2 separate regions of the Homo sapiens genome follow, and region 2 is linked to region 1. A link means that fine-mapping ties the variant in region 1 to the expression of a gene that starts in the linked region. Tissue or cell type: spleen. Region 1 holds a variant in brackets; the other region holds the start of a gene. All regions are shown on one strand. Distances are from middle to middle.

Region 1 (8,112 bases):
ATGTTGCTCAACTCAAAAGATATATTTAAGTCCTTTTCAAATTAATACTTTCAATACAAGTTCAATATTGTCAAAGATGTTCTTTCCTTCTGATTTTTCTCCTCTGCCATCCATTTAATGTTGGCATTTTTCAAGGCTTGGTTCTGGACTCACTCTCCATCACACTTTATATACTCTCCCCCTAAGCAAGTTCATTCAAGCCTGTTGTTTCAATTACCACGGAAGGCAGATGACTTAAATTAGTTGTTCAGTTTGGACCTCTCCTCTAAGCTCCAGGGCTACACATCCAACTGCCTTTTGGACATCTTGCTACCCAACTCATGATCTATCATCTCCCTCAAACCAGCTTTTATCTGATATTTTGACATCATTTAATAGCTTCACAATCCATTTTGTTGTGCATGCCATAGAGAAAAATTAAATTCTCTCCCATTCTCACTCCCTCTCTCTCTCATTCTCTCTCTCCCCTCCTCTCTCTATCCTTCTCAAACTTCCGATTCAATCCATGACCAAGCTTTGAAAGTTGTATCTCCTAAATGGCTTTCAACTTGGTTCACTTCTGGCCATCTCCATCATCATTCTTTCTTTAAGATCATCATCACTTGCCTGCAGTACTGCTATACTAACTGCTCTTTCCACATGTATTGTAACCTTCTACTCTAACCCAGTCTGGAGTAGTGGCTCTTTACCAGCAGTGACTTTGCTCCCCACATGAGATTTTGCAATGTGCGAACACACTTTTAATAGTTATGACTCCAGAGCTAGGGACAAATGCTCCTGGCATCTAGTGGGTAGAGACCAGGAAGGCTGCCAAACATCCTACCTGCACAGAATAAGGCTCTAATAACAAAGAATTATCTGGTTCAAAATATTAACAGTGACAAGATTTAGAAATCCTGTTCTGGAGTTAGACTGCGCTTTTCACATGGCAGACCTGATTATGTCATGTGTGCATGTGTATACACACACACACACACACACACACACACACACACACACTTAAAAACATTCAATAACTTCCCATTGAGCTAAGACAAAGCAAATATGGTGCTGCAGGCCTTTGTGATCTGCTCCCGGCCTGCCTCTGCAGGCCATCCAGCACCACGTGTTTCCTTTCAGCCTCCCTGCTCCCACCTACTCTATCCTCTGTCCTCCCTCCCAGTCCAGGACATTTGCACATATTGTCTTCACCTGGAAAGCTCTTCACGTAGTTAAGCCCCATTCATTCTTCAAATATCAGCTGAAGGTCGTTTCCCTGGGAGAGCCCTATACAGGGCTCTCTCTCACTGAGTTAATTCCCCCATTAAGACACTCAGCATTAGAGTTGCATGTTTAATACTGACTCCTGGGCTTCGTTACTATTTGCCTCCTTCTCTAGACTGGAAGCCACAAAAGGTGAAAAACATTTCTTTATTTTATTTTAAATAAAATTATACCACCAGTAGTTGGTTGTTGAACATTAGGTGTTCAATGACTAAATCTCTTCCAAGAACATTTGAGAAAACTTAGTCCTAGAAATGGCAAGTGACTTAATCAAGGCCACAAAGCTTATTAGTAGCCAAGGGAGGGCTTGAATCCAACTTTCTTATTGTGAAATGCTGCATTTGTTCCTTCTAAAGTGGTATTGTACGCATTTGTTTAAGCTTCTAGATTTTTACTCAAAGTAAATCTTTTGTGGAAGCACAGTGTATAAAACAGATTACGAGAGATTAAAGCAGATCACTGCTTTGATTGGAGACAGCTCAATTCAGCCTCATCCAAGAAGCTCTTTTACATCTCTACACAGCTGCCTCCTTACCCCTTGCCAGGCCCTGAAGAGCTTGCCTCAGAATGACTTTGATGTGATGACTAGGGCTTGAAAATAAGTCCACTACATTCACATGTAGATTGTTCCTTACTGCCTCCGTACAAGATGCACTCTTGATACTTGTGAATTCCAAAATGAGAATACCAATATAGTATAAGTTAATGTCATCACCAGCTGAAATTTAATCAAATCACATTTCCATGTAGGTATATGAAACAGAAATTATTCCTTAATATCATCAGTCTGAGTCCATGGACCATGTTCAGTATTCCACCTTTTACCAAAACATAAATTTTCCTAACAAAAATCACAACTTTGTAGGGATCTGCACCTTCTATTTATCTCATCTTGTTTTTGCCAATGCTAGCAGTTGGATTAAATTGCTGAAACAAAACAAGCAAACATACTGCGTTCATGTCATAGCAGTCACCTTCCAGGACAGTGGAGAGGACACCAGAATGAACTGAGATAAGGATGTTATACTCGTGCCACATGTAATGGCATGTCTGACACTGTGTCTCAACAGCATGATACCTCACTACAAGTTATGAACATATGGATTTTTTGTAATAGTTGGAAACACATGTTAAAGGGAATGCCCTGAAAAAAATGACAAGTTCTTTTTCTCTATTTTTCTCCTGCAATTGTTTTTAGCTTCAGTTAAAGTTCACTCTAATGAAGACAGCATACATCATATATTTTGGGAGTATCCAAAGATGATATGATTACCAGATAACAATATTTCTAGTGATTTTATATATATGTGTATATATGTGTATATACACACATTTGTAATAAATGTATGTACACACATATACATAGTGAATATATTCATATATATGAATATATATTCATGTATATTCATGTGTATATGTATATTATATATTTGTGTGAATATATATCTTCACATATACTTATGTACATGTGATATATGTATATATATATTTACGTGTGTGTATATATCTTCATATATACTTGTTATGTACATGTGATGTATGTATATATATATTTACATGTGTGTATATATTATATATAAATTGAAAAGCTTTTCTTTTCTAACCATAGCAAAGACATAGAAAATGTATCTACTCTAAGAATGTTTCGAAGCTTTTAGCTGTCTCTCAAACTTGACTCACTCATGTCTGTGTACTTAAGAGGTAACAAAAGTGAAAAACAATTACTGACATCATTATCTGAATGGCTGCTTAGAGAAATACAATAGTGCCTTCTTATCCATGGGGGTCATGTTACAAGGCCCTTAGTGGATGCCTAAAACCACATATAGTACCGAACCCTACATATACTCTGTCTTTTCCTAAATATATGTATACCTATAATAAAGTTTAACTTTTAAATTCAGCACAGTAAGAGATTCACAACAATAACTCATAATAAAATAGACTAACTAAAACACTATGCTGTAATAAAAGTTAAATAAGAGTGATTTGACCACAAGCACTGCAATACTACGATAGTCCATCTGATAACCAAGACAGCTTCTAAGTGAATCACGGTGGGTAGTATGGACAAACAAACTGATGATTCACGTCCTGGGCAGATGGAGTGATCCTCAGATCAGCATGCAATTTAAAATTTATGAATGGTTTATTTCTGGAATTTTTCATTTCATATTGTGGACCGCAGGTAAATAAAACTGCAGAAACCAAACCTACAGTTACAGGGAAGACTACTGTGTGACCTCCTGTATGAAAATCTTTAACTTATGTGTAGCTGTTGAAAACATTTTCAACATATTACTTGACATATTTAAAACTAGACTTTTGCTTCTTGAACTGTCTTGAGTCATTTACTTACTTTTTGCAATGTTTTTATTCAAAATATTTAGTCTACTTGGCTGGTTTGTTTTATTTGATTACATTACTTGGCCTATACAATAAGGAATCTGTATATTCCTTATTGGCCTATACAATAAGGAATGCTAGACTTTCTATGTTGGAAATATCCTTTATATTTCCTTTCTTTGGGAATCTTTTATCTCTTCACCTTTAAATTACTATCTGAAGAAGTAATTTCATAATCTTTATGAATCGAAAAACTGTATTCAATGTATGCTGGCTGAATGGGCTTGTAATTTGGGAACTCTATAATTGCTAAGGTTATCATTACAGGGTGAACATGACATTAAACTCATTTCCTTCTGTCTTCAGCATATAATGTTTTTACATTGCCATTTTTTGAAAGTCCCTCATCAACATTTCTCAGGCCTAGAAAGTTGCATCCATTAACATATATTATGTTGTATTGTGACCCTTATTTCCACTCTCTCTCTTTTATGAGAGAAAAAAACACACACACATGAAAGGAAGGCTAATTCAGAAGTGGAACCAGTGGCAGAAAAGTAAACTAAGCGTTCAGATATATGTTTGCAGTTCTTGGCAAAGTTATCAACATTTTACC[T/C]GAAGCATATTGAAAACATCCCTCATGACAGAAATCCCTCCCTCTTTCATTTCTGCCTTCTAACCCCCCTAAAAAACACATCTGTTTCCTACTGATAGCTTTTAACATACAACCCTTTAATGTCTTGTAACAGGAAGTGGAAATTGAGCGAAGTTTGTGCTCGCCAGCTTTTAAGAGTCACCCTGGGAGCCAGCTGGAGGATTCTGTGAAAGATTCAGACAAGAAAGGCAAGGAAACATCTTTTGACAAGATGTCACCTGAAAGTGGTCACAGCCGCATCTTTGAAGGTTAGCATAACATTTTGATATGCTTTCTTGACATCATACCTTGTACAACATGAGTGGTTAATAAATAAAATATATGAGGGGTTTGTTTAAAAATTAGTAAGGAAAATAATGACTGCATATAGTTTAGGAAATACAATTTAGGAAAAATAGAGGTGTTTATAAATGCTTCTATCCTTATTATATTTTAATTAGATTTTTAAAACTAAATAGAATATATTTTAATTGACTATAAACCAGTACAACAAGCATTTTCAGTATTAGAGGTTTGAAACAATGCACTTGACCATAATCTGACTTTAACTTTTGTGAAAATAAAAGGAAAACATACTTGTCTTTCTGTCTGTGGGTAACAAAAGAATAAACTAGGAGTAACTATCAGTAGCAAAATAAAAAAATAAATAAGATGCCTTAAGCATCTCCTTTTCAGACAATTAAACTAAACTTGCATAATGAATTTGGAATACAAAGTGACATAAGAGTGTTACATTTTAGACAGAACCTCATAAATTTGATTAATGCTTCACAAATATCATTAAAAAGTTAATAGCTCGTATGTTAGAAATCACACTATTAATATTATTTTCAACAATGACAGACATGAAAAATATAAATAACTTATTGGAAAATACAGATCTTATTTATCATTTCTGATTAGGCACATTCTGGATTTTTCCTCTTTAGCCAAATAATGTCTATTGTAGTATTTGTGGTGTTTGTTAAAGATCATAATTAGTACAAATTTTAAGATATCGTTTGGAATATTTGTAGCAAACTGTCAAGTCACCAGTCCATGTGAGCAATGTGGAAAGTCTTTGGAATATTACAGTTCACAGTTTGGGAAAGCAAATGGTACTCTGCTTTAAAACTTTGTTATTGAAAGTGCTGTTTGCGAATCAGCACGTCAGCATCACCTGGAGGCTTATTAGAAATGCAGAACCTTCGGCCTCACATCAGTTCTACTAAATCAGAATCTGCATTGTAACAGGATCCTCAAATGATTCATGTGCACATTAAAGTTTGAGAAGCTGTACACTGTGACAGAACAGACTGGTCTTCAGGGGAATTTACATATGGTTCAGCCCATTCTGATTCCGTTTGGTTTAAGGATGTAATTTGGAGTGGGAGGCAGGTGTAGGAACAGTCAAGGGGAGTTTGCTAATGATGGACTGGGCATGGATTTCTAAATACATGTAAATTGAGATTTCAATCTCTTTTTCACTTTCAATTCATTTTGGTATGCCCAATTAATATCCTAATATGATTAGTATCAGTCTTGAGGAATTTACTCCACATATTTCTGGCCTGTGATTAAACTTTATGTGCACTTGGCTGAATGCAAAAGAATTAGATTAGCAGAGGCCAAGGAAAAAGAAGCTTTAAGGAATGATTTATATTCTGATGATGCTTGCCTGTGGAGAGCTTAGCATAGGGAGGCAAAAATGAGTTTGGCAAACTGATCGAAGTTACATGAGATAATTAACTCCACTCATCACATCTTACTTCTCCTCATCTGTGTTTTCTTTGATTTCCATGCAAAGGTTTTCAAAGGCCTTTTTATGTTAAAAGCTTAGAAAAAGTATTCTGGAGTGTAACCACTATTTACTGTCAAGATATGACTGAAATTTAAAAGTAACCTCAAATACACATTTCCAGGTACATTGACAATAACAAGAAGTAAACTTCCAAACACAAGGTGGGAAAATTGCATCTGCAAGGTGGATGAACATAGCAGCAATTTTAATTTCATTTTATCTGTATATTGCACAAGAACTCTAATTCCTACGTAGCAATACATTTAAAAGAAACAAAATTCTTTCATTATGGGATCCTTTTCGTTCTTTCATGGGGCCCCAAATTTCTATCTCTGTTGGGACAAGAATGAACTATTTTAATACTTAATTTAGTTAACTTGGACAGCATGCAAGTTAAACTGGACAAAACCTACAAACCAAGAGCATTTTGATATTGCTGTTTTGCTGTAAATATTTATTTTATTCCAAAAAGATAAACACATGTTTCTAAATAAAGTGTGATAACTGAAAGATTTCAGAATTTATACAATTATATGAGTGACTGTGACAGCCTTATACATTAAACATCTTAACTAGCCGCAAGAGTTTCATATTGAGGCAGTATTTATTTGTAGTAATATGAAAAACAGTAGATTTTTAAAATTACACTTATAAAAGATAATTTAAGTGCAGCTACCTAATATCCTGCATATTTAAAATTTAGTAAACAGTGTGAATTGATAACTCCATTCCAGGACTGAGGACTAGCAATGCCTGTCAGTTTGGTTCCACTCCAATATCCTCAATGGCAGAACCAGAACAGCACAGAAAGGTGCTATGATTTTCCCCAGCCTCTCTTTTTATGCCTGATGATACACTCCCAGGTTCCCAGTTTGTGGACAATTGCTCTCACCACGTCTATTTTATTTGCTCCTTTTCCTCACTTATGTATTGGTGTCAAATAAACCATAGTGCTCCCGTGTGCATGTTGGTGCATTCCATTCACATTTTCTTGGAGATACACTCTAACAGTTGTTAAAATGATTCTAGGAAGACTTAGACCATATGTCATTAAATGTCAAGCATAGCAAATCCATAATTTGACAAATTTGGGTAATTTGATAATAGATGGGATATGAAAGAAAACAAATCAATCAGTGTAAATGATTTGATTAATTGTATTATACTAATATAAAAATCTGATTCGTTGGGCTGGGCACAGTGACTCATGCCTGTAATCCCAGCATTTTGGGAGGCCAAGGCGGGCGAATCACCTAGGGTCAGGAGTTTGAGACCAGCCCCGACCAACATGGTGAAACCCCATCTCTACTAAAAATACAAAAATTAGCTGGGCATGATAGTGGGTGCCTGTAATCTCAGCTACTCGGGAGGCTGAGGCAGGAGAATCACTTGAACCTGGCAGGTGGAGGCTTCAGTGAGCCGAGATGGCGCCACTGCACTCCAGGCTGGCCAACAGAGCGAGACTCTGTCTCAAAAAATATATATATATGCATATATATACGTACGTATATATATGCATATATATATATATGATTTGTTGAATTTCTTTTAGATATTTTAAGACCAGTAAGCTAGAAAGTGAATACTGGAAGTCTTAGGTACTGGTGTTTGATCTAGATGTATGTAGAATTGAAAAATATACTCTTCCTGCTGAAAAACTCTGGATCAAGGAATGCTTCAAATATCAGAATTGAATGGGTCATGTTCATCAGATTTATATGACTTGGAGTTTTTTAATATGACAATTGCCTGCCCTTCACTTTTATTCTCTAACTCATAATTTTAATTTTAATCTTCTAAGTCATCAACATGTAAAATGTCAAAAGATAAAATATATATTCAAAGTCACTTTTTCCAGGCTTTTGCAATAAACCTTGGAAATTACCTGCTGTATTTCTCTTTTTATTCTGCTCCATTAAAACTAAATTCATTCTTTATTCTTATAATGGCCATTCATCTCCTCTGACGGGTTTTACAAAACAAACTGAGACTTCTGTTCTTTCAGTTTTCTACTGCTCTTTACGTGAGGGGATCCTTCCAGTCATTAATGTTTCTAAAATACTGTAGT
Region 2 (8,112 bases), 250 kb before region 1:
CCCCATCTCTACTGAAAATACAAAAATTAGCTGGGCCTGGTGGCAGGCACCTGTAAACCCAGCTACAGCGGAGGCTGAGGCATAAGAATCGCTTGAACCTGGAAGGCAGAGGTTTTAGTGAGCTGAGGTCACGCCACTGCACTCTAGCCTGAGTGACAGAATGAGACTCTGTAAAAAAAAAAAAAAAAAAAAAAAAAGCTCAAGAGTTTGAAGATGTAGGGGGTTCTATCAGAGAAAAATTGCACTCGACAAGTTGAACAGGCAAGAAAGGATTTATTTAAGACATCACTTTAGGGAAGAGAGATTGAAAGCATCTCTGCTGAAACAAAAGTTGGTAGAGTTTTATAGTGGGGTGAACTGGTGGAAAAGTACTGGAGGACATTAGTGGGGAGGTGGTCAGTGTGACTAGGCCATCTGTGTTTACTAATTGACACTTACTGAAGTTGGGCTCTTACCTTCCCATAGAGACTGGGAGATGGGAATGCTATCTTTCTTGATTTTTTTAAAAAATATTTTAATATGACTACATAATAGTTGTATGTTATTTATGGGATACATGTGATGTTTTGACACAAGCCTGCAGTGTGTAATGACTGCATCAGGGTAGGTCCTTGAGAAAACTTTTCTGGGTTATAAAATTGGCAAGAAGCTGGGAGAAGATTCAGAGAGTCAAAAAATTTGCAATCGAAAGTTTTCTAAAGTAGATATTCTAAGGGAGTCAGGGGTCAATAGTAAGAAGTCTGTAAAGTATAGTCAAGCTGCAGAAAATATTAAGGCATTCTTAGCCATTTTGAATACTATCTCTGTCACTAATCCTGTGAACTTGAACGGGTCATTTTCCCTTTATGACCTGGACAATGTGAGATTTTGATTCAGGGCTTCCATTAAAATCACTAATGCTAAAATTCTGTTTCAAAGGCTGTTACTCAGCCATTAGTCACCGTGATTGCCTTACTGATTTTTAAAATATCAAAAATAATTTTGAAATTCTTTGTAAATGTCCTCCTTGTGACTCCGAAACTTTCCCAAGATATAGTCAATGCTTCCAGGATGCTGCTTTAATACTAGGATTATGTCCATCTGATACTAGTTGTTAAATATTCAGAATATCACTCTGGGCTATTGCAATCTACTTAACAGTTAGTTAGAAAGCAATCCTAGTAAAAACATGGCATTAGCAATAAAGACTTCAATAGGACTTCAATATATCTTATTTTCCTAAGAATCTGTACTTGCCACTGCAATTGCTGTATACTCCCAAACAATCTGGTATCAAATGTTTATTTTCCAAATTTTTTTAAAACCTTTTCCCTTATGTTCAGTTAAAGTCAATTGATTTTGGCCCCATGTAAAATATGCAGGAGATCACAAATGAATCAAAATATTAACTGTCTTTTAACATTTCTCAGTCTATTAAAGGAATAGAAATAAGCAATTTATAAAGTGCTGAGAGAATACATGACTAATTCTGGTTGTTGATGGTGAACAGGTTAGAACTATGATGACTAGAAGAATTAAAAGCATTTATATTAGGGTACATTTGTGGATGGTTTGCTTGAATAGAAAAAGAAAATTTAAGAGACCCATTAGAATTTTATTCAAATATTTAAAGATTGTTTGTTCATGTGGAAGAAGGATTAGACTTGTTTTATATGGCCTCAAGGCTTAGAACAGGCTCAAAGGGAAAATTACAGAGATATTTTGGGTTTAATGCAAGAAATATAATTTTTCAAATGAGAGCTTATTCAAAACCCTTGCTTTGGACTTCCACAACTCCTCTGCCAAGCCTTTCAACAATGAATTATAGTCAGAAATTAATTCACTGGAATGTCACACCAAAATATAAGGTCCTGGGGAATAAAAGACTGCATGGGATTTAATTCAATAACTAGTGACTTTTTTCCCAGTTGATTTTGGATCTCATGTGTGTCAAGTTGATGAATTAATAAATACAAGTGAGTCTCTTACAATAATGTGCCAACCCAGTCTGGAGGGCCCATCCACATGTGTATTGTAGGAGAAGTCTAAGCATCTAATAATTGTTGAGACTAGATGATTTAGCACAGCCCAACAGAAATAAGTGTTGTTAAGACGCAATTCCCTAAAAGGTCCTGGTTGACATTCAGTGCATTAGAATCTGAACTTCAGCAACCAGGTAGGTTTACCCAGATCAGATATGTATAACAACACCTGGAGAAAGTTTTTAATTTAAGTCCTAATAAAGATACCAAAGCCTAGCTGAGAATGAATAAACAAATATTCAAGAACAACTACTTGCTATGGATTTATTATGTAGTCAAATATAAATACTATAGTTAGGCTCCAGTATAAACTTGCTGTCTGTGTCTTCATGGGAATGGGCAAAATATCTCACCCCCATCAAATTGAATGGTTGGTGCACTTCTTTATTCTTTAGAGTGGGCCTAGTGCAACTTCTCAAGCCTACTCAGGTGGCAACTAAAAATTAGAGTTGGCACATGAGATGAAAATTATTTTCAAGCTCTTGTCTAAGGAAATACTTTATTGTTGATATAGTGTCTACTACCCTTTCTTTGAAATCTCACTATCTTCATCTGTCTCCCACTGTTACAAGCTTCTAGGATGGGATGATAATGTACTGAAATCAGGTTATTTATCATTATTTCCAAATACTTTGAATATCTGCTAAAGGGATTCCTCAAAATTCACTTTAAAATCAATTATTATTTTTACTAAGTGGTTTATTATTTTAATGCACACACAGATTTCTGGTTTTCTGCTTAGGAACTATACCAATGTTTCTTAAAAATGTCACTCTCTTATTTGTCCATGCTGTTTTCATTTTGTTAAACGAGTCATTTTGTTAAATGAGTCTTTGGAGATGAGAGGGATACATTAACCTTTTCTTGTGGGAAAAACATTTGGACTCAGAAGTAAAAATGGATCCCTCACTGGTCAGAAGCATTGACTCAAAGGCATGCCTCATTTCATGCCATTCATCTTCACTCTCCTGGGCCTCCAAACCCCAAATGTGCCAACAGTAGTCCCATCGCAACATTATGTGGGCATTACAGTTCTACACATCCTTTTCTGTTGGGGATCTTGCTTTTTTAAAAAAACAGAAGTAGCAAAATGATGCTGATTCTTACTTGGTTTCTCATAATTACCGATAATATTTTGTTTAAAATAGTGAGAATCAGCCCTGCCACAACTTGGTCTTGAATGCTCTCATCTTTATATCTAACCAGTCACCTTACATGTTCAATATTCCAGCTGAGTATCACTTCCAGATATGTTCAGCATAGTTATTCAATAGGAGTACTTAATAAAGACAAAATGTCACCCAAACTGTATTTTCTCTCTGTGTTATGTGGAATTTGCCTGACTTTGGTCAGGATATATTTTGTCTATCCAGTTCTCTGTGTCTACTGTTTTTGTCACTCTGTCGTGGAAGGAAATTAAGTTGATTTGACAGGATTTATTTTTCACAGTGCCAAGGAGATTTTACCCAGTAACTCATGATTTTCTAGGTGCTTGAAAATTGATTTTTTGATGATATGTTTCAGTAAGTTTTCAACTAAATACTGATGCTGACAGGTCTGTAATTTCTAAAGTTATCTGTTTTTTAATCTTCCCAGAGTAGAAACAAGAAACACACCAAGATAAGTACTGCATTTAGTCTTTTTAATATAGCAGAATGTCTAAGTCCTTTTTAAGTTCATAGATGTTGAGCTAATTGTTCTTTATTGACTTTGGCAAACTCTTGGAAAAATAATTAAGTCACCAGAATTTGCAGTTCAAAATGTGACCAGTTTATAACATTAGCCTTGTAGTCGAACCTTTATATCACACCCTGTATCGTCTCCAAATACCATATCATAACTGCCCTATATTTTAAGCTTTCAAACAAGATTTCTGAAACCTACAGTTTGAATACTGGCTAAGCACTGCAGTTATTTATATAATTTATGGTCATTTTTATATATGAAAATTCATTGATTAAAGTTGTAAGATTTAATTTATTATATTAAAATGCATTTCTGCTATTGAATTCCTTTATGCAAAAAAATCAACATTGTCTTTAGTAGTATATCACTGAACCCCTTATATATAAAAACCCCAGTTTGGAACAAAGAGCTATTAGATGACCAAATAAGAATCAAATTAGACTCTGCAATTAGAGTCTGCGAAGAGAAAGACTTTACTTATTTGAAATAGTATATAGCTTACTATATGTAAAATAAAATAAAATTATCTCAGAAGCTGTGGTCTCCTATAATTTGTAGAAGATGATAACTGATATCGCTAAGCACTTTTTGGTTGCAAATAACTATACTTAAATACTGCTAATAAAAGCTGACATCCGCTGATCACTTGCTTCATACCAAGCACTATCCTAAGTTCTTTATGAGCGTGATTTCATTTATTTTGTTCATCTCACAACAGTATAGTTAGAACATACTATTATCATCCCAATTTTCAAGTGAGGAAACTAATGTTTGGATATATTAAATAATGCATCTAATGTCATATACTAGTGTTTGAGTAGGAATTTGAAGCCATTTGGTTTGAATCTGGACTCTATGTTCATGATCATTATCCAAAATTCTCAGGTGTCCCAACCCCTCACAAATGACTTTGAATTAAATATTAGGTTTATTTTTATATGTATGGAACCTGACGCACAGTGATAATTAAAGTGTAGCTCAGCCATAGAGTGAGCCATTGGTCACTATGGGTCTTTGGGTTAAAACATACCTTTAAGAATATGTAGGAAAAAAATGATAATAGCTAACTCAGCAGCATTCATTAATTCATCTGCAGCAGATTAACTTGTTCCAAAATAATGAGATAATCTGATTCTGATGGAACATGGAGCAGACAAATTCTTCTAGAACCCGACCTGTTTCTATGTGGGTGTATCCAGGAAGTCAGGATTATTTGGAGAAATCTGGCAGGTCTCTAGGCAGACAAAAGGGAACATCTGGTAGGGACTGGGACATGTAGAAAAAAGGTAAGATTTTCCTAAGAAAAACCACTTCTTTCATAATTTTTTCTACACATACATGCTTCTCTTTGATAGTTTCTGACAGGACACTATTTTGCCTCTCTCTCCCTATTTCTTTTAAGTAATATACATTAAATTAGCATAGAATCACAGCATCATCAACAAATTCAGGCTAGCGCTTAGTGACAGACACTGCTGCTAGAATCTCTAGTTATTCATTTGTTTTTCTAACTAAGAAACAATTTAATCTGGGGCAGCAATGTGCCCAGAGAAAAAATAGTTAATCTCTCAGACTCAAAACACGTAAGTTTGGCTATATATTATATTTTTGGACACTGAAAGATAGTCAGGGACTTCTGGGGAAGAAATTTAACAAAAACAGCATCACCCAAAGAAAGCATCTGGGCAATTCTCCTTTCTTCCTTCGTTCCATTGAGTCAGGTCAGAGAGGACTCGCCAGGGACAAAGCCATGACCCTCAGGGACCCAAGGGCATGAGCCTGCAGCTGACAGCCCCATTCTGAATAAGCATTCAGGCACACAGACCAGGGTGGTTGTTGCAAACCCCTCAGCAGCTGCCTCCTGGCACAACCACCCACTAACATGTGATCTAGCAGACAAATGGAAGCTCTTCTTACCCCACTTCTTAGGCACTCCAACAAGGGTTCTGAATTCTAAAAACAGCAAAAAACATTCAAATTGTTACATATGAAATGCTTTCCTGCACCTTTCTATCTCAGAGATGACAGCTGTCCCTCCTCCACTCTCTCCCCACTCGCCCCCAGACACCTCCCTAAACAATTTCTGTGCCAAGATGAAGAGGATGTCCCAGGCCATGGGGCTTCTGGCCTTGAAGGGCTGCTGCAGTGGAGCCAGGGCACAGGGTAGGTGAGACACAGCAGAGGTTCTGGCCCAGGTCCCTGGCCTCTCCTCCTGCAGGTGGCGTTTATTTATTCAAGGGGAGCAACCATGTTCATTTTCCCAACAATGTGGCACCATATTTTGCTTTCCTCTCCACTTCCTTCTTCCTTGCAGCCTTCTCCCACTGTTTCCAGATGATCACCAGCCAGGCAAGGCCCACCTTGGCTTGCTCTGTCTCTCCTGCTAGTGCATTTTCTCCTTAAAAGCTCCTTTAGCCTGTCCAGATCCACTTGTTTGACCTTTCTGGTTGTCTATCCTACCTGCTTGGGGTTCTTGATGTTGATGAGTCCTTCCATGCCTTTGTGCTTTTGCTGGTAGTCATTTTCTTCATTTTCATTCTCTCATAAGTCTAGATTTCTTCCCCTTTTTGGGGTAAGCCCCATCTCCACCTTCTTCTCCTTGTTATTCTTCTCCATAGCAAGCAATCCTCAAGCAGGTATTGAATTAATGAATGGTGTTGTGTCTTCTCCAGTTCATTAATATTTCTGTTGATGTAGCTAAGTTTTATTTACTTTTTAGTTTTATTTTATTTTATTTTATTTGAGACAGAGTCTTGCTCTGTCACCCAGACTGGAGCATAGTGGTGTGATCTCGGCTCACTGCAACGTCCACCTCCCAGGTTCAAGCGATTCTCCTGCCTCAGCCTCCTGAGTAGCTGGTATTACAGGCACGTGCCACCATGCTGGCTATTTTTTTGTTTTTTAGTAGAGATGGGGTTTCACCGTGTTAGCCAGGATGGTCTCAATCTTCTGACCTCATGATCCTCCCACCTCAGCCTCCCAAACTGCTGGGATTACAGGCATGAGCCACCGTGCCTGGCCCCTAAGTTTTATTTTTTAACTGTGGGTTCATAGGCTTCGGGCATCAGAATCACCTCTTGGTGCTTTCTAAGAAGGCCAGTTCCCAGTTCAAATTCCAGACCTTGAAACTAGCTGAAACTCCCCGAGTGGGCCCTTAAGAATCTGCAGTGCTAAGGACATCTCAGATGATGTTGGTGCACAGAAAAGGTGAGAACCAGAGCATCTGAACAGACTGTAAATCCCTGAAGTCTGGATTTATGTTTTATAATTCTTTGACAGCTCTCAATAGTAAACTCTAAAAGTTTGTTTTTATTTTTATTATTCACACTGAGATTCATATTTGAAATTTCATGAGAGCAAATTTTGCATGCTTCTTTTATTACAGATGTATTCTGTATGTGGGTGTAGCAGAAGCTGATATGACAGATCATCAGCTTTGTCCTAAATAACAGGTATTGTCTGGTACGCAGCCTGCTTGGGATAATCCATGAAATATTTAACAAATTTCTTCTTTTGTTAAATACTAATTACCCATATCCTCCAGACAGTTTTCTGGGACTCTGAGATGGGTCCTTTTACTAAGGATGAGTTTATTTTTCTATAGAATTTGGAAACAAAAGCTGCTTCAATCAGCCTTTAACGAGTAAACTTGTAAGCTGAGTACCTAGCACAAACAGGGGTTATGGTTGAGGGTGCACTTCTCTCTTCCATGACTTACTAAATAATGCAGCTCCCAGAGCTGGCTATGAGAGATTTGGTGTCTTGTAGCTGCTATCTGGCGACGTATGTCCATCATGCTTGATGTTCATTAGTTAGATGAGATCAGTAAGTTAAAGAACTGTTAAATTTGTGTTTTCCTTTAATGGATACGTGACTGTGGTAGCTGAGTCACAGGACAGAAATTTGACAGAAAAAGACATGGCGGTAAGATAAGCTTATTGCAAATATACAACTTCATAAATTCTTCTAATAACTTGTCTTAGCAAGGTGCCTTAGCTGGTTCACTTAATAAATGTGAATGTGGAGATAAAAGAAAGAAAAATAAACAAATGCATTGTTCCTATCTCTTTTTTACATATATGAATTATGCATGCATCCTATTAGTGGGAAATTAAGTAATGTACTATGTTAGCTACATTTTTGGCAGAAAAATTAATTGTTCTGATAAACCTAGCATAGCTGGAGAAGTTAATGTAATTGACAATATATAATAATAAAGCTTTAGTTAAGTTTTTTCCTTAATATTGAAAATGCCATTTCTTTGAATCTCTTAACTAATTTCTTTCACATTCTTATCAGATAGATATTGAGCAACTATCTGCCAAAACTAATTAAAATTTCCCTCCCAGAAAAGATCAATTACTTGCTTTATTTGGAAAAACACTTTCAGTTGTTGTCTTTTGAT

Direction of the effects. Positions count from the first base shown, and alleles are read on the strand shown. Sizes are in standard deviations (SD) of each study's normalised expression.
For the expression in spleen of the gene that starts at base 4,916 in region 2, T is the low allele of the variant in region 1 and C is the other (large effect, 1.1 SD a copy in GTEx).

What was found. PIP is the estimated chance that this variant, and not a neighbour inherited with it, causes the effect.
Region 2: XIRP2 starts here. The variant in region 1 is fine-mapped to the expression of XIRP2 in spleen (GTEx, PIP above 0.99).

What each region holds. Positions count from the first base shown.
Region 1 is chr2:167,131,551-167,139,662 of GRCh38, forward strand. XIRP2 (xin actin binding repeat containing 2) reads left to right here. Exons shown (of 11, transcript NM_152381.6): 3 at 4,359-4,512. All of the region lies in intron 1 of XIRP2-AS1 (XIRP2 antisense RNA 1), which reads right to left. Among named protein-coding and RNA genes, the nearest start is that of XIRP2-AS1, 5.3 kb to the right of the region's middle. The variant T/C (reference allele first, on the strand shown) is at 4,226.
Region 2 is chr2:166,883,565-166,891,676 of GRCh38, forward strand. XIRP2 (xin actin binding repeat containing 2) reads left to right here and starts at 4,916. Exons shown (of 11, transcript NM_152381.6): 1 at 4,916-4,993.